4 linked regions of the Homo sapiens genome follow. The protein of the gene in region 4 interacts with the protein of the main gene of each other region in a pairwise test. Each region holds a gene or a part of one and is shown on either strand. Other genes may lie near its edges.

What was found.
Region 1: the proteins of WWP1 (region 4) and PYGM interact in a two-hybrid assay, tested with the Homo sapiens proteins (one large-scale study listed by BioGRID and IntAct).
Region 2: the proteins of WWP1 (region 4) and DIDO1 interact in a two-hybrid assay, tested with the Homo sapiens proteins (one large-scale study listed by BioGRID and IntAct).
Region 3: the proteins of WWP1 (region 4) and LZTR1 interact in a two-hybrid assay, tested with the Homo sapiens proteins (one large-scale study listed by BioGRID and IntAct).

What each region holds. Positions count from the first base shown.
Region 1 is NC_000011.10:64,752,863-64,756,974, reverse strand, and holds part of PYGM (glycogen phosphorylase, muscle form), read left to right. Parts: intron 1-1,416; coding exon 1,417-1,528; intron 1,529-1,619; coding exon 1,620-1,702; intron 1,703-2,138; coding exon 2,139-2,282; intron 2,283-2,629; coding exon 2,630-2,722; intron 2,723-2,949; coding exon 2,950-3,096; intron 3,097-3,292; coding exon 3,293-3,456; intron 3,457-3,787; coding exon 3,788-3,902; intron 3,903-4,112. UniProt on the Homo sapiens protein: Allosteric enzyme that catalyzes the rate-limiting step in glycogen catabolism, the phosphorolytic cleavage of glycogen to produce glucose-1-phosphate, and plays a central role in maintaining cellular and organismal glucose homeostasis.
Region 2 is NC_000020.11:62,908,894-62,913,005, forward strand, and holds part of DIDO1 (death-inducer obliterator 1), read right to left. Parts: intron 2,722-4,112; 5' UTR 2,720-2,721; coding exon 1,881-2,719; intron 1,128-1,880; coding exon 806-1,127; intron 1-805. UniProt on the Homo sapiens protein: Putative transcription factor, weakly pro-apoptotic when overexpressed. Tumor suppressor. Required for early embryonic stem cell development.
Region 3 is NC_000022.11:20,995,797-20,999,908, forward strand, and holds the end of LZTR1 (leucine-zipper-like transcriptional regulator 1), read left to right. Parts: coding exon 1-76; intron 77-166; coding exon 167-316; intron 317-899; coding exon 900-1,005; intron 1,006-1,089; coding exon 1,090-1,170; intron 1,171-1,435; coding exon 1,436-1,552; 3' UTR 1,553-3,236; downstream 3,237-4,112. Other genes in the region: THAP7 (THAP domain-containing protein 7), read right to left, coding at 4,084-4,112. UniProt on the Homo sapiens protein: Substrate-specific adapter of a BCR (BTB-CUL3-RBX1) E3 ubiquitin-protein ligase complex that mediates ubiquitination of Ras (K-Ras/KRAS, N-Ras/NRAS and H-Ras/HRAS).
Region 4 is NC_000008.11:86,407,509-86,412,909, forward strand, and holds part of WWP1 (NEDD4-like E3 ubiquitin-protein ligase WWP1), read left to right. Parts: intron 1-4,029; coding exon 4,030-4,366; intron 4,367-5,401. UniProt on the Homo sapiens protein: E3 ubiquitin-protein ligase which accepts ubiquitin from an E2 ubiquitin-conjugating enzyme in the form of a thioester and then directly transfers the ubiquitin to targeted substrates.

The DNA.
Region 1 (4,112 bases), on a different chromosome or scaffold from region 4:
TTTAAAAAATTAGCCAGGGTGCTGGTGCATGCCTGTAGTCCCAGCTACTCTGAGGCTTCAGTGGGAGGATCACTTGAGTCCAGGATTTAAAGGCTGCAGTGAGCTATGATTGTACAACTGCACTCCAGCCAGCCTGTGTGACAGAGTGAGACTGTTTCAAAAAGCAAAAAGACCAAAAACTGAAAACCTTAAAACCAAACCAGGTGTACAAATCCCAGTTTAGGCCGGGCGTGGTGACTTACACCTGTAATCTCAGCACTTTGGGAGGCCAAGGCAGGTGGATCACCTGAGGTCAGGAGTTCAAGACTAGCCTGACCAATATGGTGAAACCCAGTCTCTACTAAAAACACAAAAACATTAGCCGGGCATGGTGGCACGTGCCTGTAATCCCAGCCACTCAGGAGGCTGAAGCCAGAGAATCGCTTGAATCCAGGAGGTGGAGGTTACAGTGAGCCAAGATAGTGCCACTGCACTCCAGCCTGGGTAACAGAGTGAGGTCCCATCTCAAAAACAAACAAACAAAAAACAAATCCCAGTTCAGGCAATCTTCCTGCTGAAGCTTCAGGTCATCAGCCCCCAGATGGGCTGCAGATAAACCACTAGGCTTTCAGAACTGAGCATTTGTTTGTTGTCCTCCAGGTTAAGATGCAGTGGGGGCTGCTGGCAGTCCATGCCAGGTGCACGTGGCAACTGGCACAAGTGGCTGTGGCTGGAAGGCAGGAGACCTGGCTCCCTCTGGTGCTGCCAGCCTGGCTGTGTGCTCGGGGATGGGTCCCTTCCCTCTCTCTGTGTCAACTCCCACCCTGCACCAATCAGGGTGACTGAATGTGGGGAGGGAGGGCGATGCCCCTTAAAAGGGCTCGCTTAGAGGAGTGAATGTACCCCTGGCACCGTGGTAGCAGACAATTATTGATGTTTGCTAGTTATGGAAGGCGGGGCAGAATTAGTCACCGTGAATTAGCCCTGTGGTCAACCAGAGATGAGACCTTTGGATGGACTTGACCTCTGTGACCCCTTCAGCCTGGCCCTGGGTTCCCCCAGCCCTCTCATGAGTCCACAGTGTCCTCTAGCTTTTGCTCAGGCCAGGCTGGCCAGCCCAGCCCCCATTGCTGCAGAGTGGTCGCCAACAGAGCCCCTCCTGGGTTCCGGGCTTATCACCTGCCTCCTTCCATTTTCCTCACCACCGTCTGCCCAGGCAGGGCTTATGGGTGTCGGGGAGGTGTTGAGGGTGTCTTTGCTCTAGATGCGGTCCAGAGAGACTATGGGGTTTGCTCATGGTTACCCAGCTCATCGATGCTAGACAAGGACAAGAGCCTGGGTCTGCAGAGTGCAGGGATAAAGCCTTGAGTCCCAGCCCTGAGGGGAGGGAGGCAATTGCCAGGGCTGGCCAGCTCCTGACAGGATTGCCCCCCGCAGGTGGTACTGGCCATGCCCTACGATACGCCCGTGCCTGGCTATCGCAACAATGTTGTCAACACCATGCGCCTCTGGTCTGCCAAGGCTCCCAATGACTTCAACCTCAAGGACTGTGAGTTCATCCACTGGTAGCCAGCAACCCCAGCTTGCCCGCCGGCCACGCCCAGCGCAGGCCTTACCCTGTCCCCACTTTTGTCCCTCAGTCAATGTCGGTGGCTACATCCAGGCTGTGTTGGACCGAAACCTGGCGGAGAACATCTCTCGTGTCCTGTACCCCAATGATAATGTGCGTCACCCCCTGGGCTGGGGGCTGGAAGCCTGAGTCCTTGGCAGCAGGGGTCAGGGAGAGCTGGGGAAGGACACTTGCTGGTGCCCTAGTCACACCCAGGGCATATTGCTGGCCTTGTGCATCCTGTGCCCCCACCTCAAGTCTTTTGAGTGCAAGGACACCTGAGTCCTGAGGAAACTGGGTTAGCGAAGGGCACTTTGGAGGGGCTGTTCCCTGGCGACACCCACAACACACTCGGTTCTTGTACCCCTCTTCCTGACACTGTCTCTCGCCACTAGTTCTTGGTGGAGGAAAGGCCCCTGGGTCCCAGAGAGGGGGCCGGCTCAGGGCTCAGGGGTCCCGGTATGGGTGGGAGTCCCTCCTGGCCACACCCACCGCAGCTTTAGGCCATGCCCCCACCGCCCTGACTCACGCTGCCTCATGCTGTCCCCAGTTCTTCGAAGGGAAGGAGCTGCGGCTGAAGCAGGAGTATTTCGTGGTGGCTGCCACCCTCCAGGACATCATCCGTCGCTTCAAGTCTTCCAAGTTCGGCTGCCGTGATCCCGTGCGCACGAACTTCGATGCCTTCCCAGATAAGGTACCATGCGTGTGGAGGGCGACTCTGTGACCGGACAGTGTGTGCTAGGCCTCTCCCTCCAGCCTCGGCCTGCCTGCCCCATGTAATAGATAAGGGAGTGGAGACTGGGAGTGTGGGAGGGTCAGTTGTTCAGGATTCACAATCCACAGGCTCAGAACCTGGGCTTCCCTCCTCCTCCCGCCCCACTCCCCCCATTCCTCCCACCCCCATGAGCACCGGCCTGCCTCTGCCCACAGCCCAGTCACAGAACCGTGCTGGGCTCTCTGGGGGCCTCCAAATGGCATAGGGCAGTGACCATAGCATGGAATGTGGTTTGGAGCCCAGACTGACCCCTCCCCCTACCCCAGGTGGCCATCCAGCTCAATGACACCCACCCCTCCCTGGCCATCCCCGAGCTGATGAGGATCCTGGTGGACCTGGAACGGATGGACTGGGACAAGGTGGGCTTCAGGGCCCCTCTGCCCCATCTGATGCTCTCTGCCTCGGGGTTCCCTTCCCAGTTTGGGAGCGTGGGAGGATATGAATGGAGTGAAGGGATCAGAGCCTGAGGCCAGAGGGACCGTCCTGGAACCTGGCACTGCAGTGGGGGGGCCCACTGGGATGCGTAGTGTGTGAGGAGACCCACTGGGCTGAGGTCAGCATCCTGACTGCCCACCCCGTGTGCCAGGCGTGGGATGTGACAGTGAGGACCTGTGCCTACACCAACCACACGGTGCTGCCCGAGGCCCTGGAGCGCTGGCCGGTGCACCTCTTGGAGACGCTGCTGCCGCGGCACCTCCAGATCATCTACGAGATCAACCAGCGCTTCCTCAACGTGAGTCCGGAGGCTTGGGGGATGGTGTGGGGGTGAGGGGGGACACCCAGTCTGGGCCTGGGAGTCGGGGCGTCCAGCCAGGGCCCTGAGACTCTGGGGCAGTGGGGGCACTGGGCAGAGCTCTGGGGGTGTGGGGCTGGGGACTGGGGATGGGGGTTCCTGGGTCTGGTTCTAGCTCTGGGCTCTCTGGGCACAGCGGGTGGCGGCCGCATTCCCAGGGGACGTAGACCGGCTGCGGCGCATGTCGCTGGTGGAGGAGGGCGCAGTGAAGCGCATCAACATGGCACACCTGTGCATCGCGGGGTCGCACGCCGTCAACGGCGTGGCGCGCATCCACTCCGAGATCCTCAAGAAGACCATGTGAGCCCCGCTTTCCAGATCCCGCCCCTCTCTAGGCCCCACCCACTCCACGCCTCTGTCACACAGAAGCCCCGCCCTTCACCGACCACTCTCTGGTCTCTGGGCCCTGGCGCCTTTCACAGGTGGCGTCATTCTTACAAGCACAGCAGCCCCTTCCAGTGCCGCCCTGTCCTGAGATGACCTCCTCTTACACACAGCACCCCCAACCTTCCCCAGGTCTGCATTCCCTGCCCCAGGCCCCTTTCAGCAAGACACCAGGGTAGGGGCCCCAGGGCAGAGGCCTTCATTGTACAGGGGTGAGTGGTGACCCTCGTCCAACCTCATCCTGCAGCTTCAAAGACTTCTATGAGCTGGAGCCTCATAAGTTCCAGAATAAGACCAACGGCATCACCCCTCGGCGCTGGCTGGTTCTGTGTAACCCCGGGCTGGCAGAGGTCATTGCTGAGGTGAGAGGCCACCGTAGGGCCAGTAGAGTCAACATGGGTCCCTGCAGGGATCAGCTGGGTATGGTCGTGTAGGTGGTTCACTGCATCAGGGCTCCCAGCTGAAGGCTGAAATCCCTCCTGCACTGTGTTCCCCAAGCCTCGCATCCACCTGGAGGAGGGACACCATCTTAATTGCATGAGGGTGCTCTGTGTGCTAATGGAGGCCCTGGC
Region 2 (4,112 bases), on a different chromosome or scaffold from region 4:
GACATAAAGCCAATGACTTTTCTCATGAATTCCCATCTCCATTCATCTCTGAATGCCCAGATGTGGCCTCTGATAGCAGCGCAGCATGAGCCTTCAGCCCCTCCTGCCTCCAAGGGCACGCTCCCAGGTGCACGGCCCAGCCTTCGGACATCCTCACCTTGCAGCTAATGCAGTGCAAGAGTGTGAAGGCAGAGATGCTTCTAGACACAGCAATTTCCAATACCTGCCAGAGGACAGGCAGCTGGGTGGGGACAGGCCCGGGACCCTGGAGGGACCAGAGTGAAAACACGCCAAGTCACACCTGCCCTGTGGGGACTGGAATGGAGACTGCAAACACAAGACAGCAGCAGAAGCTGACAGCATGTGGGAAATGTCATAAACATCAGGGGGAGAGAATTAAGTGTCAACACAGCTGCAAGACAGAGAAACCACTCTCAACACAAGCACCCCGAGGAGCCAGCACCAGAACCACGAGGCAGCTGGAGACAGCAGGTGACACAGGAGCACCGCCACTCCCATCGTTCAGAAACAATTCCTTTCTGCTAATGCATACAAAGCATGTAAGCAACACCCAAATCCTCAAAGATGGGCTGATTTCAACAATTAAGTCATTAATAGTAGAGGAGGTAGACAGGGTAAGAATAAAAATAGAAAGGCCTCACCCAGGTGGAGTGAGGCAGGAACCCGGGAGAGGCACCGCCCCACATGGGTGCAGCACCCGTCCTGGGAGGAATTTCTATCTAGAGCGAGACTGAAACCAGTGAGGCCGACTGCTGAATGCTCGTCTCAGCGGACAAACACTTACAGGCTGGAAGATCTTGAGTTTCTTCTTGCCACTTGGATTTGCAGCTTTCTCAATTCTACCCTTTATCCCTTGGTCTTCGCTAGACTTCTGCTCTATTGTTCCTATACTTGTACAATCGGTGCCATCAGCATCTCCAGGTCTCCATTTAGCTTCCTGCTGATCTGCCGTTTCTGAATGAGTCTCATCCTGCACTTGCAGAATGGTGCAGTTTGGGCAGATATAGTCTTCCCCATTCCTTTCCAAAAGCCTCCCTCGAGCCTCAGAAATGCCCACACAATCGCCATGAAACCATTCTTCACAGCGGTCACAGCAAATCATAAACCTGAAATTATAAAATAACGGTATTAGCAATGGGACGTGAGTGACAAGCACTTTTCAACACATTAATAAGACAATTGGTTTTAACTTCATGAAAAAATGCAAATATACAGAAAAGTAGAGATTAAGAACGTCCTCATGCCTTTCCTTTGATTTTAACATTCAACCAAATTTACTTCACCGTTTTTTAAGAGTAGCGCATTTTAGGAGCAAACTCTAAGGCATTCCACCACAGATACCTCAGCAAGTCTCCCCCCAAAACTGCGACAATGCCTTTATCCCAGCGCCAAGCCAACAGGCTGCCTATCACCGTCTGACACCCAGTCCTAGCAGAGATCTTTTGAGCTGCCCCAATGTTTGCACTAGGACACTTGCGGTCTGCACATGCCCCTCTGCTATGTCTCCCAAGGGGCAGTCTAGAGGAGCAGTCTCAGACAGACCCCGGAGTGACGGACACATTCTCCTCCATGCCGTCTACACAGAGCCACTGGCTGCACGTGGCTCACGTGACTGGGGTGGGGCGCTATTCACCTCCTCACTTGACTGGAAACAGCCATGTGTGGCCAGTGGCTACCAGAGTGGAGAGGTGGCTCTAGGAAGTCCTTAGCCACTCTTATGTGTTTCTTTTTTGACAACTTGTTCATCTTTTCCAACAAATCGCTCATCCAGCCCAGCTTTGTAACCCTTTAAAATGAAAACAAATGGAAAATTCTGTTTGCAACCCTGGGATTTCTGTGGGTGCCCACACATGACCCACCTGTTGTTGTGAGGCTGGCGGCAAATGCAATACAGGGCGTTGGGGTCGTAACCCTCACATTCAGGCTTCGGTCGGCCCAAGTCTCCAGGCTCCTCATCTTTGATGTCCTGAGCCGCCTTTCCCTCCAACTTACTCTCTCTGTCATCTTTCCCAGCCTGGGACACAACCCCCTGATCGTTCTCGGGCTCCTGCTTACTGGGCAGGACGCCCTCCACAGTGTCACTGGCCTCGGAGCCCACAGTCTCGGCGGGACCCTCCTCCCGGCGCTTCTTCCGCAGGCGACTCTGGATCCCTTTCAGGGGCCTCTCAGTGGGCTCCTGTTCCCGCTTCCTGCGAAGGCGATTCTGAAGCTCTTTCAAGGTCAGGCCATCGCTGTCACTATCGGAGGTGTCATCGTGGTCATCCCCTCCTTTCACCTTTTCAGAAGAGGCTGGTCGTTCCTTCACAGCTGTGGAAGCAGACTGGGGGCCGCTTCTGGTCTCAGAAGCGCTTTCCACGCTGCCCTCGGAGGCTGTCTCGGCGTCTGTGGCGGGGCAGGACGTGGGCTCACCAGAATCCTCCAGGGAGACAGGCATGCTCCTCCTGCCGCGGCGCCGCGCAATGGTCAGGAACTGCTCCACGCGCTCAGTGCGCTTGGGCTGCCTCCCACTGCGCCGCAGGGACAGGCCCAGCTGCTGCTGTGGGGGTGGCGGCTCCAGTGGGTCAGCCTCCGCGTCCCCTGCGCCCTCTCGCTTGGCGATAGTGGTCCTTCGAAAACCCCATGTTTTCCTGAACTCTTTGCTGGTGGGTTTGATGGCCTTAGGTGCCTCCTCATTGCTCGGGTCGCCTTTGTCGTCCATACCTAGCGGTAAAGTGTAAGCACATAGTGACCAACTGACCACAGAACAAAAGGTGACATTGCCGCCAAACACGCGCAGCAGGGGCCACCTCCCTACAAACAGTGGAGCTCTACATAAAGCAAGTCCTTCTGACCAGTGTTTCCTAATGTGTGCTATGTGAGATGATTCAAGATGATTTGTAAAGATAATTTTAATATAGTTAAACAACTAACGTTTAGACAAAAATACAGCTAACAAATCAAATGTACAATTTCATCATTTAACTGCTCAGGACAAGGCTTCACAAGCCAGACAGTAGGGACAAATAGGAAATATTGGACAGTATAGCAGGGTAAGGATGTGAGTAAGGACGTGAGCAAGGACGCGAGCAGCTCGGAGGTGGCACGAGCTCCCCAGCACCTCCGCAGGCAGATGGGCTGCTCTGACCACAAGCACAGTGAACAAGACGCTGTGCCAGTTTGGGTGTGGCCTGCAAAGGGACCCAAGTCTGTTCTGGACTTTTGCAAGTATGGGCTGGCCACCACCATGCTGAAAAGAGGATATGAAGAAGCTGAGTCCCGACTTTCAGCTCCCCAACCAGGGGCTGGGGCCAGGAAGGATGCTATCACTATCTGGGACCCTCCATACCAGCCCTGCTGCCAAGTGAATGACCCTCACGGGCACAATGTGAGAGAACTGCCTAACTCCTGACCCAACAGATTGTGTGGTATGAAATAAACCTTGTTTTAGTCTACTGAGCTTTGGAGATATTGTTAGCAGCAAGACAACTGGGACACTTAGAAAACATGGTCAAGGCGATCACTTTAAGGTATATTTCTTTTTTTTTTTTTTTGAGACGGAGTCTTGCTCTGTCCCCAGGCTGGAGTTAGCCACTGTGCCAGGCCAGTATATTTTTTTTTCTGTATTATTTTTCACTTTCATTCTAATACATTACTAAAGAATCTTATTTATGAAACTTTTACTCTTGTTGAAATGACAAAAATCTGAAAAAGACAGTAGATACTTTGAGAATTCTTTTCCAAGCTGTCCAAGCTTTAATTACATTTCAATGCTAATGATGACTCTGATTTTATGCCATGTTCCATCCTGGGGGAAGGACTGGCATAAAATGAAAGCCTTAAAAAATATACAAAATGGGGCCGGGCCTGGTGGCTCAAGCCCATAATCCCAGCACTTCGGGAGGCCGAGGCAGGCAGACCACTTGAGGTTAGGAGTTCGAGACCAGCCTGGCCAACATGGTGAAACCCCATCTCTATTAAAAATACAAAAATTAGCTGGGCATGGTGGCAGGCGCCTGTAATCCCAGATACTTGGGAGGCTGAGGCAGGAGAATTGCTTGAATCCAGGAGGTGGAGGTTGCAGTAAGCCGAGATCGCACCACTGCACTCCAGCC
Region 3 (4,112 bases), on a different chromosome or scaffold from region 4:
AATTCTGTGACATCACTCTGTTGCTTGACGGGCACCCACGGCCAGCCCACAAGGCTATCCTGGCCGCCCGCTCCAGGTGGGTGGGGGCTGGACAGGAGGGGAGGGTGGGCCTGGATGGTGTCTTCGTTCTGCTGACGGCCAGGTGCCTACCGCTCGTTGTCTGCAGCTACTTTGAAGCCATGTTCCGGTCCTTCATGCCCGAAGATGGGCAGGTGAACATCTCCATCGGGGAGATGGTGCCCAGCAGGCAGGCCTTCGAGTCCATGCTGCGCTACATCTACTACGGCGAGGTCAACATGCCGCCCGAGGACTCGCTGCATCCTCACTCCCCAGTGAACTCCCAGGTCCCCACCAAGGGGTCCTGGCACCCACCTCAGGTGGCTTTGAGGCCCGCTCTCCTGCCCCAGCTAGGTGATCTGGGCCCAGCGCCTCCCTCCAGAGGGTTTGCTGGTGCCTGGGGCTGGGCCTGGTGCTCTCTGAAGCAGTTGGCAGCTGGCAAGGAGGGGTTTGCAGCCAGGAGGAACCAGTGGGTTCCTGACCCTCACAACTGCCCAGAGGACGGGGTGGGTCATTGCTTTGTGTGACAGTTGAGCACAGACATGGAGGTACTCCTTATGTCACTTCAGTAGGGGTCTGAACATGGAGGGTCAGGATGCCTGTTAGGCCTGCAAGGCCATGGAACAGCGCTACAGATGTACAGACACTATTTTTCTCGGGAGGGGATTCATGGTTTTCTTTGGATCCTGAATGGGGCCTTTGACCCACTAAGTAGTTCAGAATCCATTTGGAGAGCATGCTGGCGTGGGGGCTTGGGGCTCCAGCTGCGCCCTTCCCTGTCCTTCCCTGGGAGGGTGCGGGCGGACCAGCTTCCTTTAGTCAGCTCCTTAACCAGGCCCCAGCTACTTGTTTGCGGCCCCCTACTACTACGGCTTCTACAACAACCGGCTGCAGGCGTACTGCAAGCAGAACCTGGAGATGAACGTGACGGTGCAGAACGTGCTGCAGGTAGCCCCCCAGCCCCGTGCACATGGCTGCAGCTCCCACTGAGTGGGTGAAAGGGGCAGCGCCTCAAGGTCCCTGCCATTGCAGATCCTGGAGGCAGCTGACAAAACGCAGGCACTGGACATGAAGCGGCACTGCCTGCACATCATTGTGCACCAGTTCACCAAGGTCAGGGCTCTGGCCTCCCCTTCAGGACTCGCTTCCCCTTGGCAGTGGCCATGCCCAGGCAGGGAGGGTGCCCAGGCTCTGTGGTCCCCTGCAGTGGTGGGCCCTGGGGGTGAGAGAAGCAGAGCAGCCCATCACTGGCCGCACCTTGCTTCATCCTTGGGACCAGCCTGAGCCCTGAGCAGGGTAGGCCCCACAGGGCTCCACTGCCCACCATGGCCCTTAGGTGGATCTGGTCCCATCTCCTTCCGGCCTGCTTGCCTTACAGGTCTCCAAGTTGCCCACCCTGCGGTCGCTGAGCCAGCAGCTGCTGCTGGACATCATAGACTCCCTGGCCTCCCACATCTCAGACAAGCAGTGCGCAGAGCTGGGCGCCGACATCTGAGGCCCTGTGGCGCCTGCCCATTGTGAAGAATCGCCGTGCCTGCCTGCCCTGCCTACTGAGAAGACTACCGGCTATGCGCATGCCTATGGCAGTGGGTGCACCTGCCAGGCCAAGGGTCAGGGTGCCCAGAGCCTCCAAAGAGAGCTGAGGGGATGTGGGGCCCCAAACTCATTAATTCACTGAAGACACAGGTCCCACAGGGAGCGGATGATGAAGCAGACCCCCTCCTGTCATCACCCTCTCCTGGTGTAGTGTGGATGCGAGGCCACGGCTCAGTGATGGGCTCACCACCCAGAAGTGGGGAGAGACTTTGGGCCTCCCACCCAGTGGGGCTTGGCCTGGCTTCTGTGGCCTGGGCGTGTTGTGGACTCAGGCACTGGGGCCTGTCACCAAGGCTCCTCCAACATGCGGGAGGAGGCTTAGCAGACTTGCGCTGCACCAGCGAATCTGCCTGGGCTGCTCCTGTCCCACCCACCCTCACTGAGATCCATGTAAGGGGCTCCTCTTCCCACCTGGAACTTGTGAGTGGGGACCCATGATGTATGGGTCTCACCTGACTTGAGGTGAATTTTGGAGTGAAGGGCCCTGAGGTCAGCTCCCAGGTCGGTCGTGCTGGGCCAGGCCTGGTTTTCACAGGGGCTGAAGGATCCCAGTCCACCTGTGTGCATGTCAGGGCTCGGCCGGGAAGAAGCCAGCAAAGTCCCCCGTGTCCCTTGCTGAGTATTCTGTCACAGACAAGCCTCCATTAAAGCCACAGCAGTGCTACCCACCACACACACCTTGCTGGCCCGGCCACCACTGCTGGCTTCAGCCCCTTGAGCAGCCCATGGCTTAGCAGACCCCCAGATGTAGGTCAGTGGCCTTACCTGTCTCTATCCATGCTGTCAACTCCTGCCTCCACCTGGGGTCACCCAGTCACATTGGGAAGGGCTGTGAAGGCCTCCAGGCTGGCCCCTTCCAGGGGAATCCTGGAGGCCTGGGGTGGGCTCCTGCCCCTTCTGCCCTGCCTTGCCCCTGCACTATGCTCTTGGCTCCTGTGGAAGGAGGGCTGCCCTCTTGCCCTAGTGAGGGCCCCATGTGGATCCACTCTAGTGCTGGGAGCCAGCGCTCCCTTACTGGGAACAGGATTCCAGGACCCCTTTCTTGTTGTGGCTGCCATGAAGCCACAGCTCCTTGGGGAAGTGACCTGCTCTCCTTTGGGTGTATGCAGGTGTGTGGGGGGCCCTGAGTGGCAAGTTGCTTAGCTAACAGGAGATCCATAGGCAGCCTGCAGGCTAGGAAGTGGCCTAGTGCAAGATGAGCTGGGAACAAGGGAGGAGAGAGCAGGAGCTGGGGCAGAGGCTGAGCCGGGAGGCCCTTGAGGTGAGGACACAGCAGGCCCAGGACCATGGCTGGGGAGGATATGTCAGCACCTGGAAGTGGAGTGCAGGCTGCAGCGCCCAGCCATGTGGGCCAGGTGCATTCACTCAGAGTGGGGCCACACACCCATCTACCCAGTTTCCACAAGATGTGGCTCCTGCCACACCCACAGGGCAGCCTCCTCCAAATCCCTCCTGGAGGGGCCTACCCAGAAGCCTCCTTGAACCAGTCTGCAACCCTGCTCTATGCTGACCCTTGTCACTGAACCCTGATCTAGACTTATATGAATAAATGAAATTACATGCCAAGGGCCCTAAAAAGCAAATTTTACGAAATTGTGTGGCAGTTTCTGGGACTAGAATGAATTTCATTTGTGCTCCTCGGCAGGGAGAGGCCATACTTGCAGTGAGTCACCCCAAGACGGAGCTGTTTGAGAACTGCAGCTGCAGCAAGGCCTTCCAGGTTCCTGGGAGTTGAAGGAAAAGGATGCTGAGGCCAGGACCTGAGTGCTTGTCTCCATGTTCTGGCCACCTCTTCCTAGATTTCCAGGGACTAGCTTGTTGGGGCTTTACTACCTGCTGACATGACCCAGGAGGTTGATGATTGTCATCATCATCCCCGTTTTTCAAATAGAGATGGTAGTGAAGGGGGCGGGGAGAGGGTTGTCCAGCTTACCCACCAGGCTGATGGGGCCTGTGGACAGAAGCCTGTCATGCTCCTGCTTGAGAACCGGATCTAGACTGGGTTTTAGAAGTGTTCTCAAAGGGGCTGGCTGGTTTAAGTCAGGGCTGTTTCAGATCCTATGGAAAGGGCGCCTGGAGCTGTCTTCCTGGCCCCTACTCACACCATCCTGCCCCTTCAGAGAACCCTGTGGGGCACGGAGCTGCGCTAGCAGGGCTGACTGCCACCTGTCTACCAGTAGCTCTGAGGGGTGAGAGCCAGGCTCCCTGTTCTCCTTGGCAAAGAGCTTGGACTGAGCCCTCTAGGAGCTGCAGCCACTGTCTGGGGCAGCAAGCTTAGTACTCAGAGGGGCTCCAGCCCCCAGCTGAGCCAGACAGCAGGCCCTCCGTCTAGAATCCGCTTTATTATGGCACCTGGTGGGTCTGGTGGGATCTGAGGGAGGAAGAGGCTGCAGTCTTGCTGGGCAGCCCCTCGGTCAGTCCAGCAGCCCCTCAGGCCATGCTGCTGCTCAGCTGCATGG
Region 4 (5,401 bases):
CTAGTTGTGATGACCAAATGCATTTACAGACATTACTAAATGTCTTTGGCGGTGGGGAGAGCAGAATCTTCCCTAGTCAAGAACCATTGATATATATGAACAGTAATCTCTCCAGTCAAATATTATTGTGGCATCTTAATGCGGTTCTGAGCAGTATTGAAGAACCAACATTTGTTGAATTATTGAATAGAAATAATTTGTTTCTAAGAGTTTTTTTTAAATTAATAGACTTTATATTTTAGAACAGTTTCAGATTTACAGAAAAACTGGGGAGATTGTAGAGAGTTCCCATATGTCCTCCCATCCCACTCAGAGTTTTTGTATTACTAACATTTTGCATTACTGTGATGTTTGTTACAATTAATGAACCATTAATAATACATTGTTATTAACTAAAGTCCATAGTTTACATTACCTTATATTAACTAATGTTCCTTCTTTGTATTGTACTGGTTCTGTGGGTTTGAGAAATGCATATCGTCATGTACACACCATTACAGTATCATACAGAATAGTTTTACTACTCTAAAATTTGTTTCATTTGTTTATCCCTCAAACCCTTTGCAACAGCTGTTTTTAAATACTGGCTCTATAGTTTTGTCCTTTCCAGGATGCTACATAGTTGGAGTCCTACAGTGTGGGTAGCCTTTTCAGATTGGCTTCTTTCACTTAGCAAGGTGCATTTAAGGTTTCTCCATGTTTTTTGTGGCTTGACTTCTCATTTCTTTTTATCACTAAATACTCACTTATTATAAAGGCTCCTTGGTTACTTCAGTTTTTTACAATTGTGAAAAACATTGCTATATACATTTGTGTGCAGGCTCTTACGTGAATATAAGTCTTCAATTCAGTTGGATTGAGGAGTGAGACTGGTGGGTTGTATTTTTAAAGTATGTTTACTTTTGTAACAAACGGCCAAACTGTCTTCCAAAGTGGCTGTACTCCTGCATTCCCACTGCAGTGAATGAGAATTCCTAGTGCTTTGCATCTCACCAACATTTGCATTTCAAGGAGAGTTGTTTATTGTTTATTATTATTTTAACAATACTGAATCTTCCCATTGAGAGATATTTTATGTCTGTATTCATTCTTTTTAGTAATGTTTTTTAAAGTGTTTTCTTCACGCTGGTTGTGCAGTGGCTTACGCCTGTAATCCCAGCATTTTGGGAGGCCCAGGCTGGGGAATCACTTGAGGTCAGGAGTTCGAGTCCAGCCTGGGCAACATAATGAAATCCTAAAAATGCAAAAAAATTTAGCCGGGTGTGGTGACGCATGCCTATAATCCCTGCTACTTGGGAGGCTGGGGCAGGAGAATTGCTTGAACCTGGGGTGCTGAGGTTTCAGTGAGCTGAGATCGCGCTACTGCACTCCAACCTGGGTGACAGAGCAAGACTCTGTCTCAAAAAAAAAAAAATTTTTTTTCTTCGGATAGGTCTTGAAGTAATCTTGTTGTTGATCTTGTGTCTGTTCATTTTGCTGAAATGTTTTAGCTCCAATTAATTGGTTCTAATGGGGTTTTTAAAAAAATTTTCTTGTGTATTCTAAATAAATAATCTATTTGTCATTTTCACTACAAATGAGTTTTACCATATTCTTTCCAATGTTGTTATGACTTTTCTTAATGGATTGTCAAATATAATCAATACTGAATTGGCTTGGTAATTGTGATCTTCCTTGTTTTGTTGCTGATTTTAATTTATTCTTTTTCTTTTTCTTTCTTTTTTTTTTTTTTTTTTTTTTCTTCAGACGGAGTCTTGCTCTTTTGCCCAGGTTGGAGTACAGTGGCGTGATCCTGGCTCACTGCAACCTCTACCTCCCGGATTCAAGCAATACTTCTGCCTCAGCCTCCTGAGTAGCTGGGATTACAGGCACACAACCACCACACCCAGCTAATTTTCCTATTTTTTGGTAGAGACAGGGTTTCACCGTGTTGGTCAGGGTGGTCTCAAACTCCTGACCTCGTGATCCACCCGCCTCGGCCTCCCAAAGTGCTGGGATTACAGGCGTGAGCCACTGTGCCCAGCCCTGATTTTACTTTATTCTTGATCTTAATAGAAGTTCTTACAATAGGCTGGGCACAGTGGCTCATGCCTGTAATCCCAGAACTTTGGGAGGCCAAGTTGGGTGGATCATTTGAGGTCAGGAGTTCAAGACTGGCCTGGCCAACAAGGTGAAAGCCCATCTCTACCAAAAAATAGGAAAACTAACCAGGCGTGGTGGCGGGTGCCTGTAATCCCGGCTACTGGGGGGCTGAGGAAGGAGAACCGTTTGAACCCGGGAGGTGGAGGTTGCAGTGAGCTGTGATTGTGCCACTGCACTCCAGTCTGGGCCACAGAGCGAGACACCTTCTCAAAAAAAAAAGTTCTTAAAATGTTTTACAATTATTGTATATTAATGACTGTAGGTTTGTGATAGATAATCTAGATTACTTCTTAATTTTTCATGATTCTTCTTATCAGGCATTTTACCAAGATTTTCTTGAATGCTTTTGGTTTGTTTTGAAAATAATCATATGACGTTTATCCTTTAATCTGCTAACAGTAGATTTTCTAATGTAGTTTCCTAATATCAAATCATCCTTGAATTTATACATGATGTTAGTCTATAGTCTTCTTGTTCTGTTGTTGTTCAGTTTCAGCTTTGAAAGTTTACATTACCTTCCCAGAATAAGTTAGGACACTCCTTTTCACTTTTTCTCCCCTAATGTGTTATAACACCTTAAATAACATAAGAATGATCTATCCAATAAAGGCTTCATAGAATTTTCTCAAAAACCTTTCTGAGCCTGGAGCCTTTAGGAGGGATGATATTAGAACTTTCATCACCTTTTCCATTGCTGCTCTGATTTGTCTTTTTTTCTTTCCCTTGAGTTAGTTTAGCTAATTTCAAACTCATTGATATGAAATTGTACGTGGTATTTCTAATGTTATTTATATTAAACATGTTTTCTTTATAACACTTGGAAAGGTATATTTCATGGTTTCTCCAGCTTTCCTGAGTAAAAAAATCATATGCATTTGTTAAAAATGCAGATCCCCAGGTTCTTCCCTAGAGATTTCCCCTAGAGATTCAGTAAGTCTAGGATGAGGACTTAGATACTATATTTTCAGTAAGTTCTGGAGTCTTATCAGGTGCATTAGGAAATTCTGATCTTTTTTTTGGGTCTTTTGACCAAAATTCATTTTCTTCTACTTACTTTTTTTTTTTTTTTCTGTATCTGGAATGAATTCTAAGCTCTTTTGTTACCATTCTTTCTTACATCTTTAGGTACTTCTTTGGCCATGTCCAGTAGCATTTAATCTGAGTGTTTTCTTTTTGTCATTAATTCTCCTAAAATTTGTGATTATGTCTCCCTCTGCCATTTCCATTAGAACTTTGATATATGGTCTTCCAGTAGGTTTTGTTCTGTAATCTATTCACCCTTACAGTTTTAATTTGACTCATTTTTATAGTGACACGTAGTCGAACTAGATCAATCACACTTAAAATGAAAATTAGGAAAACTGTGTCACTGGATTGCAGTACTGGGTTATTTCTTGAAAAAGTGTAGAATGGGTTCTTGCAACCCCTATAGTACTATCTTAAGAACTGATGCCATCATACAGTTCCTACTATTGGCAAAACAGTTCGTTTGATGTTAGCTACCACTTACACAAGGGAAGGGCGATTGAAAGGGATCATTTTTCAGAGTTTAGATGGCCCATACAGACTTCCTCTCAGAATTGATGATTTGGAGGGAAAACACTGGTTATCTTAATGCTGGTTCCTCTCTCCTTAAGGTTGTTATTATTATACATACTTAAATTTTTATCATTTACATATTCATCCCTGAAATTTTGAGCAACAAAAATAAAATCTCCATTTTATTTTATGTTACATATTTTGAAAATATTACTTTGTCTGCTGTTTGGAGAATGGATTGTAGTTGCTTAGTCTGGATTAGGCTCTGAATAAGTGTAGTCAATTGATTAGGTAATTGATTGCTTTATCATTACTTGATAGATGATTTTATTAATTTTCCCTTCTCAGTTAATGGAGAATCATCCTCATTTGCACCAACTGATAATGCGTCTGTCACGGGTACTCCAGTAGTGTCTGAAGAAAATGCCTTGTCTCCAAATTGCACTAGTACTACTGTTGAAGATCCTCCAGTTCAAGAAATACTGACTTCCTCAGAAAACAATGAATGTATTCCTTCTACCAGTGCAGAATTGGAATCTGAAGCTAGAAGTATATTAGAGCCTGACACCTCTAATTCTAGAAGTAGTTCTGCTTTTGAAGCAGCCAAATCAAGACAGCCAGATGGGTGTATGGATCCTGTACGGCAGCAGTCTGGGAATGCCAACACAGAAACCTTGCCATCAGGGTATGTTAAGCTTTTTAATGTCTGACTTGCATTTAAGTAGCAACTCTGTTAACATACGATTATTGAATGTGTGCATAAAATGTTTTCATTGTTCAGAACTTTGAAATCTAAGTTGGGATCTGAATCATACTATTTATTTACTTGCTACAAAACAAGTACTTTTTGAAACTAAGAACAATTGCTCATCTGGTTGACATATATGTAGTACGAAGGGAAAAGAAAAAACCTGATGTTAATTAGCAAGACCCTCTTAATTTGATTCTTGGTTTATTTCTACTTTTCGTAAGAGTGACCATGATACTCCATATAATATCCTCAGTTCTCTGGCATCCTTGGTGATCTGTTTTCCAGACCTCATACTGGAGAGCAAATAGCTCTTCTTTTCCTCAGCTAATATTGAGTGCTGGGGAGTCACAAACCTTGCTGATTGGCTCTATTAAAAATGCAGTTTTTCATTGCTGGTTAGTAATTCTTAATCTCTTTTAAGTTTCTCATTATAATTACTCAACTTCCCATGATTTTCTTTAAAGAGTATTCTATATGTGTATTCCATTCGGTAATTTCTTTGACCTTTGGCACTGATAATACTAATATTAATTAATGATTAATTGTCTCTGCCTTCAAGAAGCTTATTTAGTGATTCACAGTTGTAAACGTGTACAGTATATACAGTACAGTCAGAAAGTATATATGGACACGTGCTTTCCAACACAGTTTACAGTGATCAGAATGTCAACTGTTGTAGCTATTGAAACTGCACTTCTAGATGTCTCTACACTATTGTCTTCATTTTGTTACCTCAGTCACTATGTTAGTGTACGTTGGTTTTTTTTTTGGAATTGTTTTTTTTTTTCTCAGTGCCCTTTACTGGCTCGTCTGATGTTGTCCACTGCTTAATTACGGTTTCAGCCTTTGGTCTTCCTTTGTGTGCTTACCCCAGTAGATCTAGCACTCTCCATTATTATTATTTTGGAGCAGAGTTTCATTCTTGTTGGCCAGGCTAGAGTGCAATGGCACGATCTTGGCTCACTGCAA